6 separate regions of the Homo sapiens genome follow, and all the other regions are linked to region 2. The links come from fine-mapping of genetic effects on gene expression. A gene starts in region 2. Each other region holds a variant in brackets. All regions are shown on one strand. Distances are from middle to middle.

Region 1 (4,087 bases), 200 kb after region 2:
GATGGAGGTCTTGGGGTGCAGGACACAAGAGCTCTGCTCAGGCAATGTGGGGTGTGGGGTCCTATCAGAGATGTTTGTTCAGCATCTCCTGTAAATTAGGAAGGGTGACAGGGCATACAGCAGCACGCAAGTGGACAAACCCTGGCTCTACTTTCCTGAGAATGCATCAGAAGGTGGTCGGTGTCATCCTAGAACAGACAATGGCTGAAGCCACGGGATGGTGACGAGCCCCCATGTGGTTCGTGTGGCTGGAGAGGAGAGGCCAGTCGAGGCCTGCGTTCGGTGGTGTGTGTAGAGTCTGGGAAAAGGAGAGGCACTGACAGACCAGACCAGAGAAGTAGCCAGGCAGTTGGAGGGTAACCAGGCACTCGTGGCATCAGGAAGTCAGGAAAAGCCTCAGGAAAGCCTTCTAGAAGTAGGGACAGTTAGCTGATTGCTGTGCTGTTGAGCGGCTCACACGAGGAGGACTGAGGATGGACCGTTGTATTTGTGCACACGGGGCCATTGCTGGATTTAACAAAAGCAGTGTCAACGCAGGGTGGTGGGCTCTCATGTGATTCTAAACTGTTCAAGAGAGGGTGGGCGATGCCATGTGGAAGCTCCTGAGGGAGGTTTGTTTTCGTCACATGGACATTATGAGAGCATGTGTTTGTGCTAATGGGAGTAACCTGGCAGAGAGGGAAAAGCTGATGTGTGGGAGGGAGAGAGAGCTCCTGAGGGCGGCCCTTAAGTAGGTGTGAAGGGAACAGGATCCATTACACAAGGGGAGGAGCTGGCTGGAGGCGGAGCATCGACGGTGGTCATTCCAGAAGGGGATGGCAGCACATGCATGCAGAGGCCAGGTTTGGAGGAAGGATGCAGACGCACAGCACAATCAAGTTTAGGAGGAGCAGGTACACACACACACACACGTATATAAGCACATGCACATACAGACATGTACACATACACATGCACATAGACAACACATGCACACATGTACACGTATACTCACCTACATTTACATACATGTATGCACACACATAGACATATATGCATATAGACATGCATAGATGCCACACACATACACACGCACATATACATACATGTCCACACATATAAACACATGCACATACACATACAGCCATATACACAGAGACACACATAGACACCATAGACACACCCACACACATACACATGCATGTGCGCACACATACATGCACATATAGACACGCACATGTATACATGTGCATACACACATGCACACGCCTATATACACATATATACATGCCCACCTATACATACATAAACATACACATATACATGTGCACACAGAAACATGGACATATACACACATGCACACATACACACAGGTACATGCTCATACATGCACATCTACACACTCACCTATACACACACACACACACAGCTTTTGGTGCCATGCCGCAGCACATTCCTAGTGCTTCACATATGTTCCTTTCTAATTGGTGTTTGTTTTAGAAGGTGGAGTGAGTACACGTGTCTGGATCCAGCCTTATTAGATTGTCTTTGCGCACTGGGAATAACACCCACTTTATGCTCAGCTCTTACTAGTGTCTCCAGCTTTCCCTCTCCTCCTTGTTAACAGAATTGGAACCCTTCCTGTCTTCCCGTCTCTCTCCTGAAATTAGCCAAGGCTCTCTCTCTTATGACTCAGTTCATTAGAGAAGTAAGCAGAAACACAGCAGCTGATGATGAACAAAATGTTTCCGGGGGTGAAGGCACCCATCTGGCAGGGGGCAGGG[C/T]GCTCTTGCAGGTTCCGCCGTGCAGAGAAGAAGCCACAAGGACCGAGGGAGGCCTGAAGGAGATGTCTAACCTGAGCCGTAGAACGTAAGAAGTTGCCAGCATAAAGACAGGTAGGAAAGGCATGTCAGTGACAGAGGCAGGAGAACACGTGACCCACTTGTGTGGGGAGCTCCAGCAGCGCGTTCGGAGTGCTGGGCATTGCCAGGTCTGAAAGAGGTCATCAGTTCTTGGGAAAGGTGCCTGCGTGGGCTAGAAATCATGGAACAAATCATAAAGCCAAGTAGTAATTTAAACCCAGATGCTACTTTAATTAACTCACTTTGCTACTTTGCCCTCGGCAGCAAGGGTTGAGGGCACAGCCCTGGCTACTAGCACAGCCCTGGCTACTAGCACTGTCCTGGCTACGAGCACAGCCCTGGCTACTAGCAGAGCCCTGGCTACTAGCACTCTCCTGGTTACTAGCAGAGCCCTGGCTACTAGCACAGCCCTGGCTACTAGCAGAGCCCTGGCTACTAGCACAGCCCTGGTTACTAGCAGAGCCCTGGCTACTAGCACAGCCCTGGCTACTAGCACTGTCCTGGTTACGAGCACAGCCCTGGTTACTAGCAGAGCCCTGGTTACTAGCACAGCCCTGGCTACTAGCACAGCCCTGGCTACTAGCACTGTCCTGGTTATGAGCACAGCCCTGGTTACTAGCACAGCCCTGGTTACTAGCACAGCCCTGGTTACTAGCACAGCCCTGGCTACTAGCACTGTCCTGGTTACGAGCACAGCCCTGGTTACTAGCACAGCCCTGGTTACTAGCACAGCCCTGGCTACTAGCACTATCCTGGTTACTAGCACAGCCCTGGTTACTAGCACTATCCTGGCTACTAGCACAGCCCTGGTTACTAGCACTGTCCTGGCTACTAGCACAGCCCTGGTTACTAGCACTGTCCTGGCTACTAGCACAGCCCTGGTTACTAGCACTGTCCTGGCTACTAGCACAGCCCTGGTTACTAGCACAGCCCTGGCTACTAGCACAGCCCTGGCTACTAGCACTGTCCTGGTTACGAGCACAGCCCTGGTTACGAGCACTGTCCTGGCTACTAGCACAGCCCTGGCTACTAGCACAGCCCTGGCTACTAGCACTGTCCTGGTTACTAGCACAGCCCTGGTTACTAGCACAGCCCTGGCTACTAGCACTGTCCTGGTTACGAGCACAGCCCTGGCTACTAGCACAGCCCTGGCTACTAGCACTGTCCTGGTTACGAGCACAGCCCTGGCTACTAGCACTGTCCTGGTTACTAGCACAGCCCTGGTTACTAGCAGAGCCCTGGCTACTAGCACTCTCCTGGTTACGAGCACAGCCCTGGCTACTAGCACAGCCCTGGCTACTAGCACTGTCCTGGCTACTAGCACTGTCCTGGCTACTAGCACTGTCCTGGCTACTAGCACTGTCCTGGCTACTAGCACTGTCCTGGCTACTAGCACAGCCCTGGCTACTAGCACTGTCCTGGCTACTAGCACAGCCCTGGTTACTAGCACTGTCCTGGCTACTAGCACTGTCCTGGTTACGAGCACAGCCCTGGCTACTAGCACTGTCCTGGCTACTAGCACAGCCCTGGTTACTAGCAGAGCCCTGGTTACTAGCAGAGCCCTGGCTTCTAGCAGAGCCCTGGTTACTAGCACAGCCTTGGTTACTAGCACAGTCCTGGCTACTAGACACCTCTGCTAGAGACTGCCCAAAGAATATGCCATGAGTTAGCTCTTTCTCCCCCTCCTGCCACTGGTCAGCTAAGCCTTCCCCCTAAAAATCACTTTTTGATATAGAGGGTGAAGAATTTCCAGTATCTCCTTTAGTTGACTGTGAGAGAAATTAGTGTAATTTCTAATTGACCATCTTCACAGAGTTGTAGAATGATCACAGAGCATTTAGAAGCTGTGGGTTGCTAATAGCTAAATGGCTTTGAAATAATGAATGCTTCATTTGGGGGAACTCGGGGTAACTGTGACAAACCGTTGTTATGAAGGGGCTTTAGCTAGCCTTGGAAGGGCAGGCTGGAGGCTTCTGCACGTCCTTGGAAGTCTCCATCCACCAGAAGGAGCTCCTTCTGCTCTCTCAGCCTGGATGTGATAGTTGCCAGCAATAGGCGCAACTTGGTTTTTAAATTAAAATCTAATATTTGATATACATAATTCTATCAACAATATATTAAAAATATGATTTCTGCTTTGCATCTGCTCTTTTTGGTACACTGTGTGTCACATGATAGATGCCACATTAATATCTTTGACTATTAATAGAGTTGGATAAGTAATACACTGACTCCTTTAGCAGCCT
Region 2 (4,087 bases):
GATGAATGGGTTTAGCGTTGCTGCTTTTCTGTAACTGTGACTTCCTGCAAGAGCTGCTGGAATGCAGCTGTCTACAGCCACCGGAGGTGGGGAGCAAGGTGACAAGGCAGAGGACAGGAGTGATTTTGTTGCCTTCAGATGAGAACGGGGTCTTCCTAAGACCCTGCATCCCTGAAGCCTCTGCTGGTAACTGTGAGGATAGTCTCTGCCAACAGAGAGGGTGCCCTGAGTTTCAATAGGAGAATTGGCTCCATGGGGTGTAATAACCAAACGAATGTGCGGAATGACAATGATTTAATCCTGTAGCCTTTATTAAAGGCTTGCTTTGTGCTGGGTGAGAAAGGTCTGGGATTGTATTCTTCATTCTCATTTTGAAAGGAACACAAATGCCATCAAGATTTTGATATGGATGGCCACATGTGTCTAAGCCCCGGAAAACCATCCTGAGAGATCAAGACCATCTTGGCCAGGATGGTCTTGAACTCCTGACCTCATGATCCACCCACCTCAGCCTCCCAAAGTGCTGGGATTACAGGCGTGCACCACCACGCCTGGCCTCGTTTTATTCTTATTTATTTATTTATTTATTTATTTATTTTTGAGATGGAATCTCACTCTGTCACCCAGGCTGGAATGCAGTGGTGTAATCTCGGCTCACTGCAACCTCTGCCTCCCAGGTTCCAGCTCTTCTCCTGCCTCAGCCTCCCGAGCAGCTGAGACTACAGACGCACGCCACCACGCCCAGCTAATTTTTGTATTTTTATTAGAGACGGCGTTTCACCATGTTGGCCAGGCTGGTCTCGAACTCCTGAACTCGTGATCCACCCTCCTCGGCTTCCCAAAGGGCTAGGATTATAGGCGTGAGCCACGGTGCCCTGCCTACATTTGGTTTTATAGTCCACCTTACACAGTTCTCTATACATTGTAAATGAGCCAAATTTCCTGAATTGAAAAAGAGAGTCACACAAGAGGCTTGCCTCCACGCACAGACATGTAGTTTTAGATGTCTGCACGTGAAGCTATATCAAAATAAGAATAAACTACTGCTACCAAGAAGTGGGAAAAAAATTTAAAAAGGATAAACTGCTCAGAAAACGAAACAGATTAAACAAAAAATTGTATTAGATGAAATTTTTTTTCATCGAATCTTGCTCCAGACTCTTCTTCTGTTGCTTCAGACCCTTCTTCATCTGAAGAGTCTTGCTCTGTCTCCCAGGCTGGAGTGCAGTGGCACGATCTTGGCCCACTGCAACCTCCGCCTCCCGGGTTCAAGCAATTCTCCTGCCTCAGCCTCCTGAGTAGCTGGGATTACAGGCGCGCACCACCACGCCCAGCTAATTTGTGTATTTTTAGTAGGGACGGGGTTTCACCATGTTGGCCAGGCTGGTCTCGATCTCTTGACCTCGTGATCTGCCCGCTTCGGCCTCCCAAAGTGCTGGGATTACAGGCGTGAGCCACGGCGCCCGGCCTTTCACTTGGTTCTCTATGAAAAAATTAAAGAGAAAATCTGATTGACACTGTGGAGGACACTACACTCCAAAAAAAAAAGTACTATATTTTCTAATATTATCAGTGCTTTTTAATATTTTCTAATATTATCAGTGAAGCTTTTGCCGCTTTTTCAAAATCTGGAAGAAACAAGGCGGTTGATTCCTTTAATTTCAGGAGCATGTAACTTCATTTATAATGACAATGTTTTTGAAAAAATAAATTAAACCGACAGTTTCATTTGTAGGATTGACTTTAATAACACGCCTCTACTGAACAAATGGCGATTAACTGGGGAAAACGGAATTATGGTAACCGAGGTAACGGGGTCGGGGACTCTTTCTCCTTCGCTGCATGCTGGGTGGCGGGGAGAGACCGCTCTGAGGAGGTTTGGTCTGTCGGCCACGCCGTAGGCCGCGGTGCATTCTGGGTCCTGGCAATATGGCGTCCTCCTTGATGGGCTGATGAGATGAGTTTCACTGTAGCTCCAAACCAGAGGGCAAAGCTCCCATGACCCAATAAGCCCACATTGTCCCTTTCCTCCGTGGTTCCGTGTCGCCCGTTTCTCAGGACTCGTTCTCAGGCAGGAGAGAGCCTCGGGGCTGAAGGCCAGGACCAGCCAGGCCGCGCGGACCTGAGGTTGAGGAACCGGGTGCAGGCGAGCACGATGGGCCGGTCGTGGCTCTGGTTGCAGCAGCTCAGACGAGTGCGGGACCCGCAGGGCTGAGAGTGGCTGGAGGAGACCCAGGGCCCTTTGAACCCGATCCCTTGGCCGGAGACCTCAGCCCAGTCGGCCCAGTGGGCGAACCGGCACCAAGAGCGGCCTGCCTGTCTTCGGAACTGCTGAGGCGGTGGAGGCCGAGAGCAGGGTCATCGTGAGGCCTGAAGTCTCTTACGCTTTTGGCAGCTCCCCTCGCAGCCCCTCTGGAAACGTACAGCCTCAGGAGCAGCCAGTGGCTTGGGACCTGGGGTGGTGTGTGTCTGCGGAGCTTCTTGGGCTGCCCCATTTCCTAGCGGCCCCCACCTCCCCACTTCCCGCTCAGAGTTAGAGATAAGGATCTCAGACTTTTGCCTGAGTAAGGGTCTCCGCACTCTTTATCCATTTGGTTTTCGATTTCCCGTTTTTGTTTCTTATTTCACCAATTCTGGTACACGCTAGTTTTTAAGGCTGGAGGTTCTCGAGCGCTTGCTGCCAAGGACTCCCCCACCCCCTCCCCCACTGATGGAGTCCGAAATGCTGCAATCGCCTCTTCTGGGCCTGGGGGAGGAAGATGAGGCTGATCTTACAGACTGGAACCTACCTTTGGCTTTTATGAAAAAGAGGCACTGTGAGAAAATTGAAGGCTCCAAATCCTTAGCTCAGAGCTGGAGGATGAAGGATCGGGTAAGTGGATTCTGAAGGCACCCCTTGAACTTGGTAGTTTCCCCAACAAAGAAAGTTTACAGCCCGAAAAGTGTCCTTGGGAAAGCGCCGACATTTCCCCCTAGCCACACGTTGTAAGTCAACTAGAAAGCAAAAGCCATTTCAGACTGCAGTTTTTGGTTGAAAATGGAAAATGCTGTTTTGGTTAGTCATTATTCACTGGGTAGTGTTAATTCAATTCCAACTAAGTTCTAATTCAGATAATAAAAGTTAAGCAAATTTGAAAATAGAGCATTGCGAGTATTTACATGCTCTTTGGCATACTACTTAGTTCTGTAAACACTTAGAGGAAGGACAACGTGCGATATAATCTTTATACCCACATGATTAGTCTACTTTTTAAAATATCCAAGCTGGGTGAAGTGCAGAAGTCTGATATACTATGCTAGGAAATGAGATTACTGGAAAATGTTCAACTAGTAACAAATTAGTGCAAAGTTATTATAAAGTTACACTGAACTTCATTCTAGTCTTCTAAACAATTTCTCTTGAAGCTAGATTTTCCTCCTTTTATGTAGTGTCCTGTTGCTGTAACTTGGAAACAGGATTTCTTTAATCGTGAGTTAGGGTATGAGGCGTCGAGACTTGGGTGCAGGTTTTAGGGTGTCCGCATGGTGTTTGGAGTGTGGAGAGTGACTCACAAGCAGCTGGTAGGAAAGAAAACAGCCGAATTTTGTTGGATTTGTCCTTCATAAAACACCCATCTATTTCCTGGCCTCAAAAGCAAAAGGGTAGTACTGCTTCTCCTCTATGCACACTTATAATTTGTCTTTTTGTAAGTTATTTTCTCCCTCCAGGCTGCTTTTATTTGCACATTTCAGTGGTATAAAAGAGGAAGTTGGTGTTACAATGTTTGATTTTCTCTAGGCTTATGTATATGTTTATGGAATATTATTGTTTTTTAGTATATGATGTTGAACATATATAAGATTACACTTCTGGGCTGGGCGCGGTGGCTCACGCCTGTAATCTCAGCACTTTGGGAGGCCAAGGCAGGCCTCCCAAAGGCAGGCGGATCACCTGAGGTCAGGAGTTTGAGACCAGCCCGGCCAACATGGTGAAACCCTGTCTGTACTAAAAATACAAAAATTAGCTGGGCTTGGTGGCAGGTGCCCGTAATCCCAGCTACTCGAGAAGCTGAGGCTGGAGAATCGCTTGAACCTGGGAGGCAGAGGT
Region 3 (4,087 bases), 410 kb after region 2:
TTTCTCTTGTTTGCTTTTGTGAAAACTTCCCTCCCTGTCCAAGGCTCGGACCTGCCGGAAATGCAGTGCTGGAAGGACACACCCGTGGCTAGCCCCGGGGTCCATGAGACCCCCCTAGAAGCATCCACATGTCCATGCCCAGCTGGCCCCGGGGTCCCTGAGACCCCCCGGAAGCATCCACACGTCCACACCCGGCTGGCCCCAGGGTCCCTGAGACCCCCCAGAAGCATCCACACGTCCACACCCGGCTGGGCCTGGGGTCCCTGACACCCCCAGAAGCATCCACACATCCACACCGGGCCACGCTGCAGGAAACAAGACTTGGTGGCCTGTGCTGCCCCACGGGCTCTCAGTCTCTCCGGGTCAGGATGGCAGTGCCCAGCTTACATATCAGGAAGCAGCACTGACGAGAAAAGCGGCCTTCTCGGCCCAGACCCTCCAGTGCTTCCTTCAGAGTGGGAGCCTGTGCTGCACTTCAGGGGTCTCGGGGTCAGAGAACGAGGCTCTCACTGCGGGGGAAGGCAGCAGAGGCGTCTCGCCAGACGTAAGAGCTCCAGGCCCCAGTCCCCGAAGGCTGTGCCAGCTGTGGGCTGGGGCACCAGGCACAGCTCTGGGCTCCCTCAGGTTGCACAGGACATGGGAAACCTGGGTGTGGGCAGCAGGCGGGTGTGTCACTGCTGCTGCGGCTTTGCTATGTGTCCAGGACTGGTTCAAACCAGTTCACTCGGCATCACAGAATCTGAACTGAAAAAGGACTTAGGGTTCACCTGACTATACCCCTCCATGGCAGGACGCTCGGGCCGAGGGACAGCTGCCCAGAGCCTCTGGTTCAGATGGACACCTGAGGCCCAGGGTCGGGCTGTGCCATGTCCCCCATGCCGGCATGTCACTGTCCTACCCGGGTACGTCGGCCTATGTGCTGGAGACAGGGCCTTTACAGAGGTGATTAAGGTCAAACCAAGTCACCAGGGTGGCCCTAACCCAATGTGCCTCGTGTCCTTACAAGAAGAGGCCACCAGGACACAGACACACGTGCAGGGACAGGTGGGCGTTCCTGGGACGCCGGCTCGGCACTCACCCAATGAGGTCACGGTGTCAAGGGAGGGCCCGAGTTCCAGCAGGTTGCTGGGGGATGTCTCACGGGCCTGAGGGTAATTATTTGTCATCGATTGGAGTCACACTGCCTAAATCCAGAGCCGTGAATGCTGACCACAGCACAGCCACCACTCTTCTTGAAAGTCACAGTCACCAGGACCCAGTGTTGGCATTTGATAGATTAATGGTATTAGCAGGTTGGTTTCCCTCCGCGGTATTACATTTAAGGGAATAAACAACTCACATGAACGGCCAAGGGCTGAAGACAGAAGTGGTGCTCTCCATCTTCGTCAGGTGCTCACGGAGGGCCCACAGCACATCTGATCTGGTCACCACGGGGATCCGTGGAGCCGCAGAGGTTTCATCCTCCCCTGGAACTGAGGAGCTCAGGCCCTCCGCCAGCTTCTGCTGCAGGGAGCCTGCAGGAGGCCCAAGGCGTGACCTCCGCTTGCCCCAGCCCCCACTCGCCTCTCCCGGACCCGCTTGCCCAGTTGGGCACACCCAGCTCAGGCACACGCAAGCCAGGCTCCCCACGTCACCCCTGAGACTGGTGCTTTGGAGGCTGTTTCTTGTTTTCTGGCATCTTGAATGTTCTCCATGTGCTCGTTCTCACCTTTTCCCTCTGTTTGTTCTGCTCGTGTCACTGCTGTTCCCAGGGCACCTCTCTGTTCTTCCCGACCCAAGGTGTCGCTTCCTGGCAGAGTCACCAGGAGGATCGTGCCTGGGACGTGGCTGCTGCCCCCCAAGTGACCATGCAGTCTAGAAGTGCAGAGCCCAGACCCATGCATCTCTCCCTTCTCTTTTTCTTTTCTTCTTTTTTTTTTTTTTTTTTTTTTTTTTTGAGGTGGAGTCTCGCTCTGTTGCCCAGGCTGGAGTGCAGTGGCGTGATCTTGGCTCACTGCAACCTCCGCCTCCCAGGTTCAAGCGATTCTCCTGCCTCAGCCTCCCAAGTAGCTGGGACTAGAGGGTCGCACCACCACGCCTGGCTAATTTTTGTATTTTTAGTAGAGA[T/C]GGGGTTTCACCATGTTGGCCAGGATGGTCTCGATCTCCTGACCTCAGGTGATCCTCCCACCTTGGCCTCCCACAGTGCTGGGATTACAGGTGTGAGCCACTGCACCCAGCCTGTGCATTTTCCAAGTTGTGCAGCCACCACCTTTATCTAGTTCCAGAAGATTCTCACCACTCCAGAAGGCGGCCTGCTGCCCATTAAAGCAGTTTCTTCCCATAGATTCTTATTTATCTATTTTTGAGACAGGTTCTTGCTGTCACCCAGGCTGGAATGCAGTGGCACCATCACGGCTCACTGCAGCCTCGACCTCTCAGGGCTCAGGCAGTCCTCCTACCTCAGCCTCCTGAGTAGCTGGGACCACAGGCCCATGCCCCACACCCAGCTCCCATAAGTTCCTCACTTAAACAGAGAGAAACTTAGAAAATGTCTGTGCCAAGCCAAGCCCTCTGTGCTTGTGGATCTGCCCCAGGTCTCAGAGTGGGGCCTCAGGGCCTCCTGGCGCAGCCTCCGGATGGCCGTGCCTCCAGGCAGGACAGCACTGAGCCACTAAAAGGGATGCACCAGGAACCCTGGGCGGTGTCCTCCTCGGTCACCCAGACGCCACTTCCCAAGAGCATGTCCGGGTGGGCAGCAAGCATTCTTTGTGATTAATGTAGGTAACAGCATATCCTGAGGGAGGGGGCTCCAGTTCTGTGTCCTCAGGCTCTGTTGGCTGCACAGCTGCAGCAGGAGCTGGGCTCTTCTGGGCAGAAACGGGGAAGTATGTGCCCTCCCGCCCGGTTGCACACCGGCCCTCACTGTGCTCACAAGGCCTCCCAGCGGAGGAGCAGGGCTGCAAGTTGAAAGCCTGTGATCCACCACGGCGCTCGTGCTTCTGACCTGCTGGGACATTTCTTCCTGCCTGGGTTCAGGTGTATCACAGTAGAGGGACTACACTTCTTTTTTTGTTTGTTTGTGTTTGTTTTTGAGATGGGGTCTTGCTCTCACTGCAGCCTCAACCACCTGGGCTCAAGCGGTCATCCCACCTCAGCCTCCCAACTAGCTGGACCACAGGCGCACACCACTGCAACGGCTAATCTTTTTTCTTTTGAGACGGAGTTTCACTCTTGTTGCCCAGGCTGGCGTACAATGGCGGATCTTGGCTCACTGCAACCTCCACCTCTCAGGTTCAAGCAATTCTCCTGCCTCAGCCTCCCAAGTAGTTGGGATTACAGGCACCCACTGCCACACCCAGCTATTTTGTGTATTTTTAGTAGAGACGGTGTTTCACTATGTTGGCCAGGCTGGTCTCGAACTCCTGACCTCAGGTGATCCACCCGCCTCAGCCTCCCAAAGTGCTGGGATTACAGGCGTGAGCCACTGTGCCCGGGCTACATTGGCTAATCTTTTATTATTTGTAAAGACAAGGTCTTGCTATGTTGCCCAGGCTGGTCTTGAACTCCTGGGCTTAAGCAATCCTCTGTCTCGGCCTCCCAAAGTGCTGGGATCACAGGTGTAAACACATCTGGCCTGGGACTGCATTTCAAAAGTAAAATAAAGAATGTATGTATGCCAGCAATTAACAACTAGAAAATGTAATTATAAAACATCATGGGCCAGGCGTGGTGGCTCACGCCTGTAATCCCAGAAGCCGAGGCAGATGGATCACCTGAGGTCAATAGTTCAAGACCAGCCTGACCAACATGGTGAAACCCCATCTCTACTAAAAATACAAAAATTAGCTGGACATGGTGGCAGGTGCCTGTAATCCCAGTTACTCAGGAGGCTGAGGCAGGAGAATCACTTGAACCTGGGAGGCGGAGGTTGCAGTGAGCCAAGATCACACCACTGCACTCCAGCCTGGGCAAAAGTGTGAGACTACATCTCAAAAAAAAAGAAAGAAAGAAAGAAAGAAATCATAGACAACGGGAATAAAAACTGCAAGATACCTAGGAATGAATCCAACAAATGCACTTTCTTCACAGATCAAAGCATAAACTCTAA
Region 4 (4,087 bases), 150 kb after region 2:
CTGCCCCGACCCGTGCTGTGCGGGTCACTCACCCCCACATTGTCTGCCACGGGGGCCCGAGCATTTCCACACGAGACTTTCACATCAGCCACCCGGGCAGGGCCCGCGTTAGTTTAGTTGTTTGTGGAGGAGAAAATTGAGGTTTGGTTTTGTTCATGACGTTGCCAGGTCGAATGGCTGGTGAATCATTGATTTGGGGCTGAGACTTAAGTTTCCCATCTCTGGGCGGGACCTGTGCTCTCTCCCTGTAACAGTGGCCTCTGTTACAGAGGGGCAGGTGGGTGGCTCACGTGTGGGCTCACCTGCGTCACTTCTCTCCAGCTCACCTCCACTGCGAGAGTGCCTGGGGATGCCTGCCAGCCACCCAGAGCCAGCGTCTTCCCAAGCAGCTGTTTTACAGGAAACAAAGCAGGATGACCTTGGGCTTCCTAGTCTCTGCACGTTACCCCGAATTCCAGAATAATCGTGAGAAGGAGCCAGTGGAGTGGTGTGACTTTTGTATTTATAGACTTCTTCCAAAGGTCACCTCTTTTATTTCTGAAAAACAAGTCGCTTGAGGCCCATCTTTACAGAGTGACAGGAGCTCAGGATGCAGAGGCACCAAGGCCAGGGAGGAGCGTTGGGGGTGGCTGGAGCTGGTGGGCCAAGGGCCGCAGACCACTTTTGCCCTGCATGGCCTCGTGGCTGCCTTTTCTACCTGCGTGAGCTGGCTTTGATCTACCCCGGACCCATCTTTCTGTGAAGAGTTTGCAGAGGATGCTGGTTACATCTTAGATGGAAATTGGCCGTGTCTCTGCTGTTTCTGAGTGTGCGACTCTCAGAGCCAAGGTGGCATCTGGCGACTGGCCTTGTTCTTGTGAGTCCCTGTAGGGCAGGATAGATTTTTCCGGCAGGGCTGCAGCCTGGAGTTCAGGCTTCCTCTCCCTTTTAAATTTCAAAGACTCAGGGTTCCATTTAAACAGACAAGATAAGTGGCAGCTTTGTTTTGTTTTGTTTTTTCATTAAGAGATTTTGGAGGGGGAGGAAACCAGCCTTACAGTGATAGCATCAGGAAAAGATTACACAGAATGGCATCTTATTATGAAATATTGAAAACATTTAAAGAGCAAATAAAATATGCAAATAGAGTGGGACAGAATTTGTACTGCACAGCCTCTTGCCCTACATCTTTCCCAATAAAAATTTAACTCTGAGGTCCATGTTGGGACAAAAAAAATGATACTGGGATAGTGGAGCTCGGCTTTCGTTAGTTCAAAGCGAGCAGCATATTAATCCAAGTAAGCAGAATTCCCATGTAGATTCATTCCACAGCCTTTTCTTGGGTGACGACTCTGTGCCCAGAAGCAAGGGGCTGACTGGGACCTGAGAGGCCTCTTCTTAGTGGCCATGGCCTCCCGGGGCAAGGCCGGCTGGTGCGTCAGAGCCTGGATCTCTGCAGTGGGCGCAGAAGGGACACAGGAATTTTCTCTTGGCCTCTTTGCTGGACTTGCAGCAGGGATGCCGCCGAACTCAGCCGTTTGCAGGCGGGAGCACGTGAGTGAGCGAGTGTGGGATCCAGCCAGCCCCCCCAAGCACCAATACAGGAGCAAACTCCATGCGGGGCCCACAGCCAGACCAGGTGTGTCACCTTGAGGGGAACACGGTGGCACCCAGGCAAGGGTGCCCATGACCCTGAAGCCCCAGAGTGGGTGTTAGTGTGCTCATTAGCTCTTTTAGTTCTTCCATCCACAGTCCAACAGATGGTGGCATGTTAGCAGCTCCGTCGCCCCCTGGCCCCATCACGTAGGGTGGCTGCCCTCTGCCAGCAGGAGCAAAGGGCTAGTGTGACAGTCTTTCTGGTACCAGCACTTGGTGGGTCCTGAGCTCTTGTCCAGCATCCAAGCAGAATGCAGATGTGCCTACAGTCAGAGAGTGAGCAAGGTGAGGGGTTTTACTGAGTGATGAAAGAGCTTTCTGCAGAGAGGGGACATGGGGGCGGTCCCCCCACCCGAAGGTGGGAAAATCCCTCCAGTGTGTCTTAGTCTGGGGCTTTTGTGGGCTCAGAATAGGGGAGGGGCAGGCTGTA[G/T]GTAGTATTGGAAAAGGCAACATTTGATTGGTTAAAAGGCATTATTCAGAAAGAATCAATTGGGAAAGGGTGGGCAAACGGGAATAGGAGTTTTGCTCTGGGTCTTGGGTTTTATCCAGGACCTGCCGTCTGGTCTTTCAGCCTTCAGGCTGTTATTTGGCTTGGAGGTAGGTTTCACCAGGGACCTGCCCCTGTCTGCCTAGGCATTTGACTACCTCCCATCGGTATCAGAAGCACCTTGTGAGCCCCAGGGAGCTGGTGAGGACCTTGTAAGGGAGGAGGAGGGCGGCGTGATAGGTGCAGGTGGCGGCGTGATAGGTGCAGGTGGCACCGTGCACAGCCACGTCAGGGACTTGGGAACGTCTGGGCCAAGGAGCCACCTTGTGCAGAGGCATGGAGTCATGAGAGATTAGCCACGGTGGGAACGTGGTGAGGACACTGGGCTGAGCAGAGGGCTCGCAGGTGGTGCTGGGCAGGGAGCCTGTTGACCCACCCACAGAGGGTTTGTCTCAGGGGCCGGTGGCCTGACTGCTGTGCGTTAAGGAGGAAGGCTCTGACAGAATGGGGGGACTTGGAGAGGGGTCATTTTGGAGGCCTGAAGGTGGTTGGGGTGTTTGACTCCCATGAAGGCAGAGGTGGTACAGCGAAGTCAGAGGGACACATTCCTGTGACCCACTGGGCACCAGGGAGATGGCAGGAGCAGGAGCTGAGGGTAGTGGTGAGGTTTCTGCTGGCAGAGTTTGGTGGTTGAGTTTCTGCTGGCTGATTTGGTGGGGCCAGCGAGTAGACAAGGATCCCAGACGGGTGGGTGCGGGGCAAGGTGGGGAATTTGACCAGATTTCTCTTGAAGGTGCCCTATGGGGAAACGGTGTTGTGAAAGTAGGAGGGTGAGGAACGGAGGCGACTGAGGGTCCACAGAGGAGGATGGGCCAGAGGCAGAGGTGACAGGCCAGGTAGGCCGAGTGAGCAGGGGAGCCACGTGAGGCCAGTGCGGGCGCACCAGGCACTGGGCCCCATGCAGAGGGGCTGCCGCCCCACCCCCACCCAGGCCTCACTGACTCCTGTGGGAGCCATCTAGGTACAGCAACCACGTGGAGGATAGCGTGAAAAGTGACGGGACGGAGCAAAGAAAGACACCAGCTCCTCGTTTGCAGAGGTTTCTGCACCGTTGTCACCAGCATGTGGTCATGGCCTGCTCCCCGGGGGCCATTCCAGCCATTGATCCACATTGTCCTCCAGCCAAAGGAAACAAAGCGGGAAGTGGAAAGAGCTGGAGTTACGTGGGGGCACCTTCCATCCTAGGCCGGCAGCTGGTCAACCTCCTCAGCCTCGTCACCGTTTAACATCCTCCCTTTTGTTCTTTTCTCCTTAATCTTTATGTTTGGAAAGATTTCTATAGACAAATGTGCCGCTGCTTCTCCATAGCCTTATCTGGAACAAAGGAAATGTCTTTTATTACCATTCATGCAGGTATAATCCGTGAAAGACAAGCCTGTTCTGCCAGTCACCAAGTCAGTCCTTTTCCTTCTGTCTTGCTCATGGAAGGCTGTCCCGGCCCTCACCTGACTAGTGGTGCAGCTCTTCAGGGGGTAGTGCCCATCCAATTCCTGGGGAAACCCAGGCGAGCCTGCTGGCCAGGAAGCGCCAGCTTGTGTCTGATTGCTAGGTTACCCTGGGTGCTTCCTGGATGTTCAGGCGCCCGTGATTCCCCCAGCATCTGCCTCGAGCTTATGTGCATGGAGCAGCAGATCCCTTTGTCTGGGCAGTTAGATTGTCTGCTAAGGAAAGTGGGTGTTGGAGCAAAAGCCTTGCTTCACTGCTGTACTCCAACCCATCAAAATGGAATTGTTTAAAATGCCCTCAAAATAAAAATAGAGACCCCAAGCTCTTGATAAAACAGCTTTCTCTGGAGAAGCTCATCGGGCTGTGTAAACTCCAATAGGAAGTATTTATTCATCATTTGTATGTGCACAAATATTTATTTAATGTCAACTGTGAAGGCTGATGAGTAAATCAGCAGGT
Region 5 (4,087 bases), 350 kb after region 2:
TTCCTGATAAATGGAATTAATTTCTTTGAATGTATTTTCTGCATCTCAGAATGACCCTGTGCATGGCTGTTTGTTAGGGTAGGGAATTACATGATTGAATTTCTTGTGAAATATCCTTGCATTTCTGGGGGCACCCAGCGTGGTAATGTCCCCTGACATCGCTGCCTTACGCTCACCAGCTATTTCTTTGGGCGCTCCCCATTGGCATTCACGAGTGGGTTGGGCTGTGACTTTTCTTGTCCTGACCTGGCTGGTTTAGACATTGAGTCTGTACCTGCCTAGTAAAACTGGCTCCTCCGGGCATGGTGACAGGTGCCTGTAATCCCAGCTACTTGGGAGGCTGAGGCAGGAGAGTTGCTTGAATTCGGGCAGCAGAGGTTGCAGTGAGCCAAGATCACGCCACTGCACTCCAGCCTGGGTAATAGAGTGAGACTCCATCTCAAAACAAAAACAAAACAAAACAAAACAAAACTGGCTCAGGAGTGTACCCTCATTCCCTGTCCAAAAAAACTGGCTCAGGAGTGCGCCGTCATTCCCTGTCCTCGGGGGCAATTTTTATAAGACAAAGATGATGTGTTCTTTCGGTGTCTGAGTAGAATTTGCCCCTGAACTGTCTGGGCTAGTGTAGTGTTGTGAGGGTGGGTTTGAATTCTGTATTCCATTTCTTTAATGCTGATAGGATTATTTACATTCTCTATTTCTTCATAAGCTAGCTTCAAAAAGTTTTATTCTTCTAGGATTTTATTCATTTCAGCTAAGTATTCTCATTCTTTCCCTTGAGGCTGTCTGCAGTATTCTCATGAGTCTCTAATCTCTGCTGTCTCTTTATTGTTTTAGCTGCTTTTACTGATATTCCCAATCTGCTGCCTCTTTAGATATGTCCCCGTTTATTCCTATTGTTGTTTATTTGCCTTTTCCCCTTTTTCCTGATTAATCCTCTAAGATGTTTGTTCATTTCTTTAGTGTCTTCAAGTTCTAACTTTTAGGCTTTGTGGATTTACTGCATTATTTTATCTTTATTTTTCTATTCCAGTACTTTATTTTGTTTCCTTTCTACTGTTTTCTCTAGGTTCACTCTCTTGTCCTGTTACAGTTCTCAAACAGAAAATAAAAACAGCTCATTAACTTTGAGTTTTTCTTCCTTCCTAATGTGTGTGTTCAGGTCTGCGGGACCCCTGCCCCGGCTCCCCCAACCCCTGCCCCCGCTCCCCCCCCGCTCCCCCCACCCCCCGCCGCCCCGACTCCCCCCGCCCCGGCTCCCCCCGCACCTGCTCACCCAACCCCTGCTCACCCCGCCCCTGCTCACCCCGCCGTCTCCGTCTAGTGAGTTTTGATGATGGGCTTTTCACTTGTGTTCAGCTTCAAGCTTTCTTTCTACTTCCATTGTGGTTCCTGGGGATGGCGGTCCAGCCACAATGACAGCAGCGCATGACAGGAGCCCAAAGACCCGAAACAGACGCAGGGCATCCGCCAAGGCAGTTCCCACCGGGCAACCCTGTGGGTGTGCTCCCAGCCTTGGCCAGCTGCTGCCTTGAGCACCTCTGGATAGAACGAGTCCAGAGCTTGCACCATGCCCTCCAGGGTATGGAGAACTGAAAGGTTCACTACACAACAACCCAGACACGCCAGCTTAGCCCAGACACGCCAACTTGTTAATTTTCATTGAGAAATAACGTTGCAGCTTTGTGCATTTGGCTGTCCACTAAAATATGCCAAGTGCCCAGAAAGCGCAGAGTTGACTCCGTATATTCGAGTATAAATCAAGGTATTGCCAAGTCACCAATGAAATATATTCTAACGTCACTTGTAAGATGTTTGTTTTGAACTGGAATACACTTTTTAAATAGAATTAATGTTACATATAGTGGTTAGGTTTCCAGGCTAGCCTGCAAGAGTCTTTTAAAACCTGTCTGCAGAAATTCTACTTATAAATCTACAATGAAAAAAGGTATTTAAAAATTTTTTTTTAAGTACTAGAAAATGTAAATTCATAGTATTCTGTTTTGATTACACATTTCCCCTGGCCCCGGCCACAGCTCCTGTGAATAGCTCTCTAGCGCCTCCAGCAGGTTAGTGCCACCTCTGCCCCAGTTCACGCTCATCAAGGTCAAGGTGATAGCTCCCTTCCGTCACGTGTAGGTTAGAGCAGGAGTCTGCAAACTCTTCCTGTGAAAGAGCTTTGCAGGTGGGACTGCCCCTTGGCACTTCCCCAACACTGCCA[G/T]TGTGGTGCAAAAGTAGCCAGAGACCGCGTGTAGGTGAATGAACTTGGCCATGTTGCTATGTAACCGTGTGGACTGAAGTTTGAATTTTGCGTAACTTCACATCACAAAATATTGTTCCTTTGATTTTTTTTTCAACCACTTAAAAAGTATAAGAACCATACACAGGCCATAGAAAAACAAGGCTGAGTTCAGCTCAGAGAGCCTGACAGTAGGGCACACCCTGCCCGCACCCTGGCCTCCAAGGATACTCCTGTGAGTCAGAGGGCTTGGGATTCTCCCACGGATTGGACAGATATTTTGACAGTGCCCCCACTGTGCATGCTGGGGCACAAAAGTACAGAACAGGCAAACCCAATGCCACCTGTGTCGAAGCCAGTACCATCGGCTCTGGGCATCTCCCACCCCTCCCTGCAGAAGTGGGCGTCCTCCCTCTGCAGCCAAGGGGACCGGCGTTTACTCAGGTTGACTCCTGGCCAGGAGTCGGGGACTCCTCTTTGTGCCCCAACACATCCTTCTCTCAGCCGGGCATCTGTGGCCGTCTCCTCCCCGCCTCGCAGCCACCTGAGCCAGCAGCTCTGGCCTGGTGGTCGCAGCTCTCTCCCGGGTCTCCCTGCTTCCACTGTGGCCCTCCTGGGGCCGTGTGCTCACTGTGGCCTTCCTTTTTTTTCTGAGATGGAGTTTTCCTCTTGTCACTCCAGCTAGGGTTTAATGGCGCGATCTCTGCTCACTGCCTCCCGGGTTCAAGCAATTCTCCTGCCTCAGCCTCCCAAGTAGCTGGGATTACAGGCGCATGCCACCACACCTGGCTAATTTTGTACTTTTAGTAGAGACAAAGTTTCTCCAAGTTGGTCAGGCTGGTCTCGAACTTCCAACCTCGGGTGATCTGCGCGCCTCAGCCTCCCAAAGTGCTGGGATTACAGGCATGAGCCACTGTGCTCGACTGGCCTTCTTCTTTCACAGGAAGCGACAGCAGCATCACCCCTCGGTGCTCACCTGGTGACCGTCTGCCAAGGGCCTGGTGGCCCCGCCACCCTACCTGGCCCATGCTCCATGGGGTTCTCGGTTCACTCTCGTCCCTCCACTCACACGTATCTGGCCATCAAGTAAGAATCAAAATAAAAAGTTGCACCTGGCCTGCAAGTGTGCAGAACCGCACCTTTTGTTGATCCAGGAAGCTCAAGCCAGGCAGTGTGGCGCTGGGTCACCATGGCACCATTGAGAGCTTCCGTCTGCAGGTCCCCACGCCCACAGCACCTCCCTTTCCCCCTGGGCATTTGGATACCACATGGGCATCTCCCCTTCTGCTGGCGAAGGCTACAGAAAGTTCACAGCTGTGGAGTTTCCAGGTGGCTGAACTTGCTGAGGCTGCTGTTTGCTGTGCGCGTGCCATGCCTGAGGCCCTGGGTGCTGTCCACAGGCAAGAGGGACTGCGGAGGCCCCGCCCAACTCCTGTGTGAAACTTAGCTCTTGTCTGTGATGAGTGAATGCCGTTGTTATCCTCGGTACTGGTCTCGGTGGAGTACAGGGCGAAGAATCGCAGTTTCATTTGAGGGCCACCCAGACGGGAAGCACACAGCAGCCTGGGGCCCGGACACAGGGGCTTGGCCTCCATGAGTTTTCTCCTCTGCCGGTTCTTTCTTTTCTGTCTTCTCGAAGGAGCTGGACTCCCCATTCCACCATCCTTCTTATACAATGTGATTCCTGACTTTTTTTTTTTTACTGGAGAAAACTGAGTTTTATTCGTATATCATTCAAATCTTAGGAAATTTGACAGGAAAGAGTTTCACAATGAGCTGGAGTTTAGGAAGGAAAGAAAACAAAGTCGCCCCTGCAAAGCCAGCCTCATTCATATTCAGTGAGGTGTC
Region 6 (4,087 bases), 220 kb after region 2:
AGTAAGCATTTAGTAGGAAGTGCAGTGAAAAACAAACTGATACAGTTACCATAAGAGGGACTTTGAAATCAATATGCCACAGTGGCAGACAGTGGTCATCAGATAACCACTGCCTGGAACAATTGAGCGGTGTCTCAGGTGGCGGCTCTTTTACAATAAACTGCTTTCTCCCATATTGAAGTGCTGAAATTAGGTTGAACATGACATTTTGCTAGGTGTCTATGGCCTGTGAGTGGTAATGGACTATATTCATTAAAGAATTATCAAGTGAAATGTGTAGTTTTGTGTGAGCTAAGTTAAAAACCACCAGGGTTTTTTTTTTTAATGGAAGAGTGAGATAGTTTGTCAGACAGTAATTACGTATGTTTTTAGGGTTTTAGTTTTATTTTTTCATTTTGAAAAGTCAATTTTTCTAATTAAAAATGAAAGATACATTCTTTTCAGAAAATTACTAAAAAGTTAAAAGTAGAAAAAAATCATCCAAGATTTTACCATCTAAGGACAACTAGTGTTCACTTTTTGATGTATTGCCTGTTGGTCTTTTTTCTGTGCATGTACATTTTGCACTGATGTAAGTGGACAGAATTTACGATTTCATATCCTTAACCCTTCGCATTATACTAGAGTTCCCTGCCCTAGATCATTAGAGACTCTTAGTAAGTATCATTTTATATTTCACTATGTTGAAGTTCCATGTTTTATTTAGCCGGAGCGTAGGGCTTTGGGATTTAGGCGCCAGGAGTATGCGGGTGGGAAGGTTCAGCCTGGCACTCTGATGGGAGTCGGCAGACCTGGTTCTGTGAAGGGGCAGACGCACTTGGGTTAGGCTTTTCGGGCCACACAGTCCCAAGTCTGCTGTTGCAGCACGAAAGAGCCACAGGCAATATATAAACAAATGAGCATGGCTGTGTTCCAGTCGAGCTTTCTTTTTTCTTTTTTCTTTTTTTTTTTTTTGAGACCGAGTCTCACTGTTGCCCAGGCTGGAGTGCAGTGGCGTGATCTCGGCTCACTGCAACCTCCACCTCCTCGGTTCAAGCGATTCTCCTGCCTCAGCCTCCCGAGTAGCTGGGATTACAGGTGCCCACCACCACGCCTGGCTAATTTTTGTATTTTTAGTAGAGATGAGATTTTACCATGTTGGCCAGGCTGGCATCAAACTCCTGACCTCAGGTGATCCGCCCGCCTCAGCCTTCCAAAGTGCTGAGATTACAGGCACGAGCCACCGCACCCAGCCTCAGTCAAGCTTTCTTTAAGGAAACAGGCAGTTGGCCAGATTTGGCCCAGGAGCTATAGCTTGGCACTTCCTGCTCCAGAAAAGGGAACTAGGATTGGGCTGCAGATGACGGCTGTGCGTGTCTGCCGGTCTGCAGGTGACCTGGAGAAGGGCGATGCTCGGGAAGGTGGATTCCCTCCCTCCCTCCCTTTACTATGTAAATAAGAGAAACGGTTTCTAAGCACGCTGCCCTCATTATGCTGGCACAGCTGCTACAGAATGCGGTGTGCTGGGTAAACAACATACAGCTTTGCTTCATTTGGACAAAATGTGTACATGTGTACTTGGTGGCAAGCGTATTTATGAATCTTATTTGATGATGAACTTGTTGGAAGACATTGTTCTCTAATTTTTTTTCATTTTTGCCTGTCTTTTTCATTTTTGGAAACTGATTTCAATAATTCCAAAATGAGCAATGACATTACTTTCCACATAAATGATTATCTTACTCACCATATACATCAATACACTGTAAGAATCCAAAATATATTTTTTCCCTTGGCTGTTTTCTACTTCTTTGATTGAGTGGCATAATATCATTTTAGATTTATTACGCGTCTATTTGTATACTACTGAAAATTATAACCCAGTGGGACTTCATTTGCTGTGGGACTTGCTATAAAACAGATTGATGTCTATTGCACTGTGCTGCATGCACTAGTATTGTCTATTAATGAAAATGATAAACATTATTTTGGATTGAATAGAGGTCAAAAAACTTACTTCCTTTCTTTCAATTAAGTTGAAGGATTTCCAGGACTATAAATGTTAATGATAGAGCATTAACGTGTATTTGTCAGCGTGGAAAGTTTCGCTCCTGCATTGCCCGCAGGAGACGGAAGATGCATGGGTTTCCTGG[C/T]GCGCAGGTTGGGTGGAGGCTCAGCGTGGCTCTGTCTGGCCAGGCTAAGTGGTTTGCAGTGCCTGTCTCATTTCAGACATTTGCTGTGACATTTGCTTCGTATTTTTTCCTGATGACTCAACCAAGAATCATTCAGAATTACCTTTAGAAACATAAATTCTTGTGGTTTTGATGATAGAGTTAACCATGTGTTCTCCAAGGAGTCTTCTAAAATACATCTGCTTTGCCAGAGAACACACTTTCTTCTGCCCGTTCAGTGCTCTCGGGTCTTTTGCCGCTTCCTTTCAACAACAGTCCGATGACTTTGTCTTCCTGCATATGTGCGAAGGGAGAGGAGCTCACTGGTCCTCCCAGAGGGTGAAGTAACCGGGACACATTATTGAATAAAATGCTCTTTTGTAGTATCCCACTCTGTATCTTAGACCTTAGTCGTAGGCAAGTTTAATTTGGAATTTGCGTCTGGAGAAACGGCTTTATGACGTTTCCAAGTAGAGCCTCAGTATCATGGATCTCACACAGTCCCCGCGGCAGCTTCCAGGCCGTTTCCAGAGGAAAATATTTTTTCTCCCCAAACAAGACAGTGTTCTCTCACTGTTCCAGTCTCTTGACATATACTCAATTAAGATGAATATCATAATGTATTGTAATAGAGCTCCCGTTTTAAAAGATGACGTGTAAAAACCACCTGATGGATGCGGTAAGAAAGGGAATTGAAGCAGATGGAGGGGCACGGGCTGCTGACTCCCCGGCTGAACCCCGTCCTCGGGTGCTGCAGGAAAGAGTGAGATTGATGATCCTGGAGGGAGCCCACTCAGCAGCACAGCCGGAGACTTTGCTGGTCCCTTGAGATGGCTGAGTCCCCACTGGGGGCTGGGGTGAGGGGTGAGGCCGGAGGAGACAGTGGAGCTGGCGAGGGCCCCAGGGTGCAGGCAAGGCTGAGGGCACTCGGCTCTCCTCCCACTGCCCTTGATAGGCATGGCCTGCTGTGCTGTGTCTGGGGCTCAGAAAGATGGAAAATAAGAGGGTGGAAAGAAAGAGTTTGTCCTACCGCCCTTGTGAAAAGAGAAGTAATCCAATAATAAATAAAAGTGATAAAAGACAATTGGAAATATGAAGAAGAAACAGGAAGAAAGACCAGTTGGAAGCATTAAGTATAAAAAATATAATTGGTGAAATAATTGAAGAGATGGATTGAAAAGCAACATTATGGATAGAGCCAAGAATAAACCAGGAAGCTGAGAAGCTTGTTTGAGGAGTTCCCACCAAAGGGATGGAGCTAGAAGGAAGGGGAGAAACATGAGAGGCAGAGACAAAGTTTAAATATCTAGGAAATAACATTTTCTTCTCTCTAAAAAAAAACGTAGAAAAGGAGAAAAGACAGGCTTAGTAAATAGAAAGTGTGAGATACGATGGCTAAAATGTTTTGAAATAAAGTTGTAACTGTAAACGAATTGAATTCACCTCTCAAAGGGCCATGATTCTTGTGTTGGTTAAAATCATGATACAGCAGTCTCTTGTCCATGAGACACAGATTTAAAGCAAAACGTTTAAGCCTGGGCAAAACAGCACGACCCTGTCTCTACTAAAAATTTAAAAATTAGCTGGACATGGTGGCTTATGCCTGTGGTCTCAGTTCCTCGGGAGGCTGAGGCAGGAGGATCAGTTGAGCCCAGGAGTTCAAGGCTGCAGTGAGCTGTGATTGTGCCACTGCACTCCAGCCTGGGTGACAGGGTAAGACCCAGTCTCTAAAAAAAAATAATAATAATAAAAAATAAGAACATGTATTTCAAAGGTTGGAAATCAGAAGATGAAAAAGAGAAATACGAGCTAAAAGAAAGCTGGGGTGGCCAGTCCCAATATGACTTAAAGCAGAAGCTGAGATAAATTATTGAGAGGGGCAAAGAAAAATGTTGTATTGTGGTAAAACGAACAGGAAAGCAGGAAGGTATATACTG

Alleles and levels. Positions count from the first base shown, and alleles are read on the strand shown. Sizes are in standard deviations (SD) of each study's normalised expression. Not every link is listed here.
As copies of T replace G in region 5, the expression in monocytes after LPS of the gene that starts at base 1,919 in region 2 goes up (large effect, 0.85 SD a copy in Fairfax 2014).

The links. PIP is the estimated chance that this variant, and not a neighbour inherited with it, causes the effect.
Region 1: its variant is fine-mapped to the expression of RPTOR in whole blood (TOPMed, PIP above 0.99).
Region 3: its variant is fine-mapped to the expression of RPTOR in whole blood (TOPMed, PIP 0.99).
Region 4: its variant is fine-mapped to the expression of RPTOR in whole blood (INTERVAL, PIP 0.97).
Region 5: its variant is fine-mapped to the expression of RPTOR in monocytes after LPS (Fairfax 2014, PIP 0.95).
Region 6: its variant is fine-mapped to the expression of RPTOR in whole blood (TOPMed, PIP above 0.99).

What each region holds. Positions count from the first base shown.
Region 1 is chr17:80,741,554-80,745,640 of GRCh38, forward strand. All of the region lies in intron 5 of RPTOR (regulatory associated protein of MTOR complex 1), which reads left to right. Among named protein-coding and RNA genes, the nearest start is that of RPTOR, 200 kb to the left of the region's middle. RefSeq lists a silencer at 2,061-2,415. The variant C/T (reference allele first, on the strand shown) is at 1,764.
Region 2 is chr17:80,542,920-80,547,006 of GRCh38, forward strand. It overlaps RPTOR (regulatory associated protein of MTOR complex 1), which reads left to right and starts at 1,919. Exons shown (of 34, transcript NM_020761.3): 1 at 1,919-2,872. The coding sequence starts at 2,711. RefSeq lists enhancers at 1,613-2,439, 1,773-2,132, 2,413-2,512, 2,440-3,266.
Region 3 is chr17:80,950,947-80,955,033 of GRCh38, forward strand. All of the region lies in intron 28 of RPTOR (regulatory associated protein of MTOR complex 1), which reads left to right. Among named protein-coding and RNA genes, the nearest start is that of CHMP6, 39 kb to the right of the region's middle. The variant T/C (reference allele first, on the strand shown) is at 2,107.
Region 4 is chr17:80,695,202-80,699,288 of GRCh38, forward strand. All of the region lies in intron 3 of RPTOR (regulatory associated protein of MTOR complex 1), which reads left to right. Among named protein-coding and RNA genes, the nearest start is that of RPTOR, 150 kb to the left of the region's middle. RefSeq lists an enhancer at 1,526-2,053 and a silencer at 3,148-3,442. The variant G/T (reference allele first, on the strand shown) is at 2,066.
Region 5 is chr17:80,897,452-80,901,538 of GRCh38, forward strand. The region is part of intron 20 of RPTOR (regulatory associated protein of MTOR complex 1); the gene reads left to right. Among named protein-coding and RNA genes, the nearest start is that of CHMP6, 92 kb to the right of the region's middle. The variant G/T (reference allele first, on the strand shown) is at 2,222.
Region 6 is chr17:80,759,368-80,763,454 of GRCh38, forward strand. All of the region lies in intron 6 of RPTOR (regulatory associated protein of MTOR complex 1), which reads left to right. Among named protein-coding and RNA genes, the nearest start is that of RPTOR, 220 kb to the left of the region's middle. RefSeq lists enhancers at 1,667-2,866, 2,162-2,211. The variant C/T (reference allele first, on the strand shown) is at 2,133.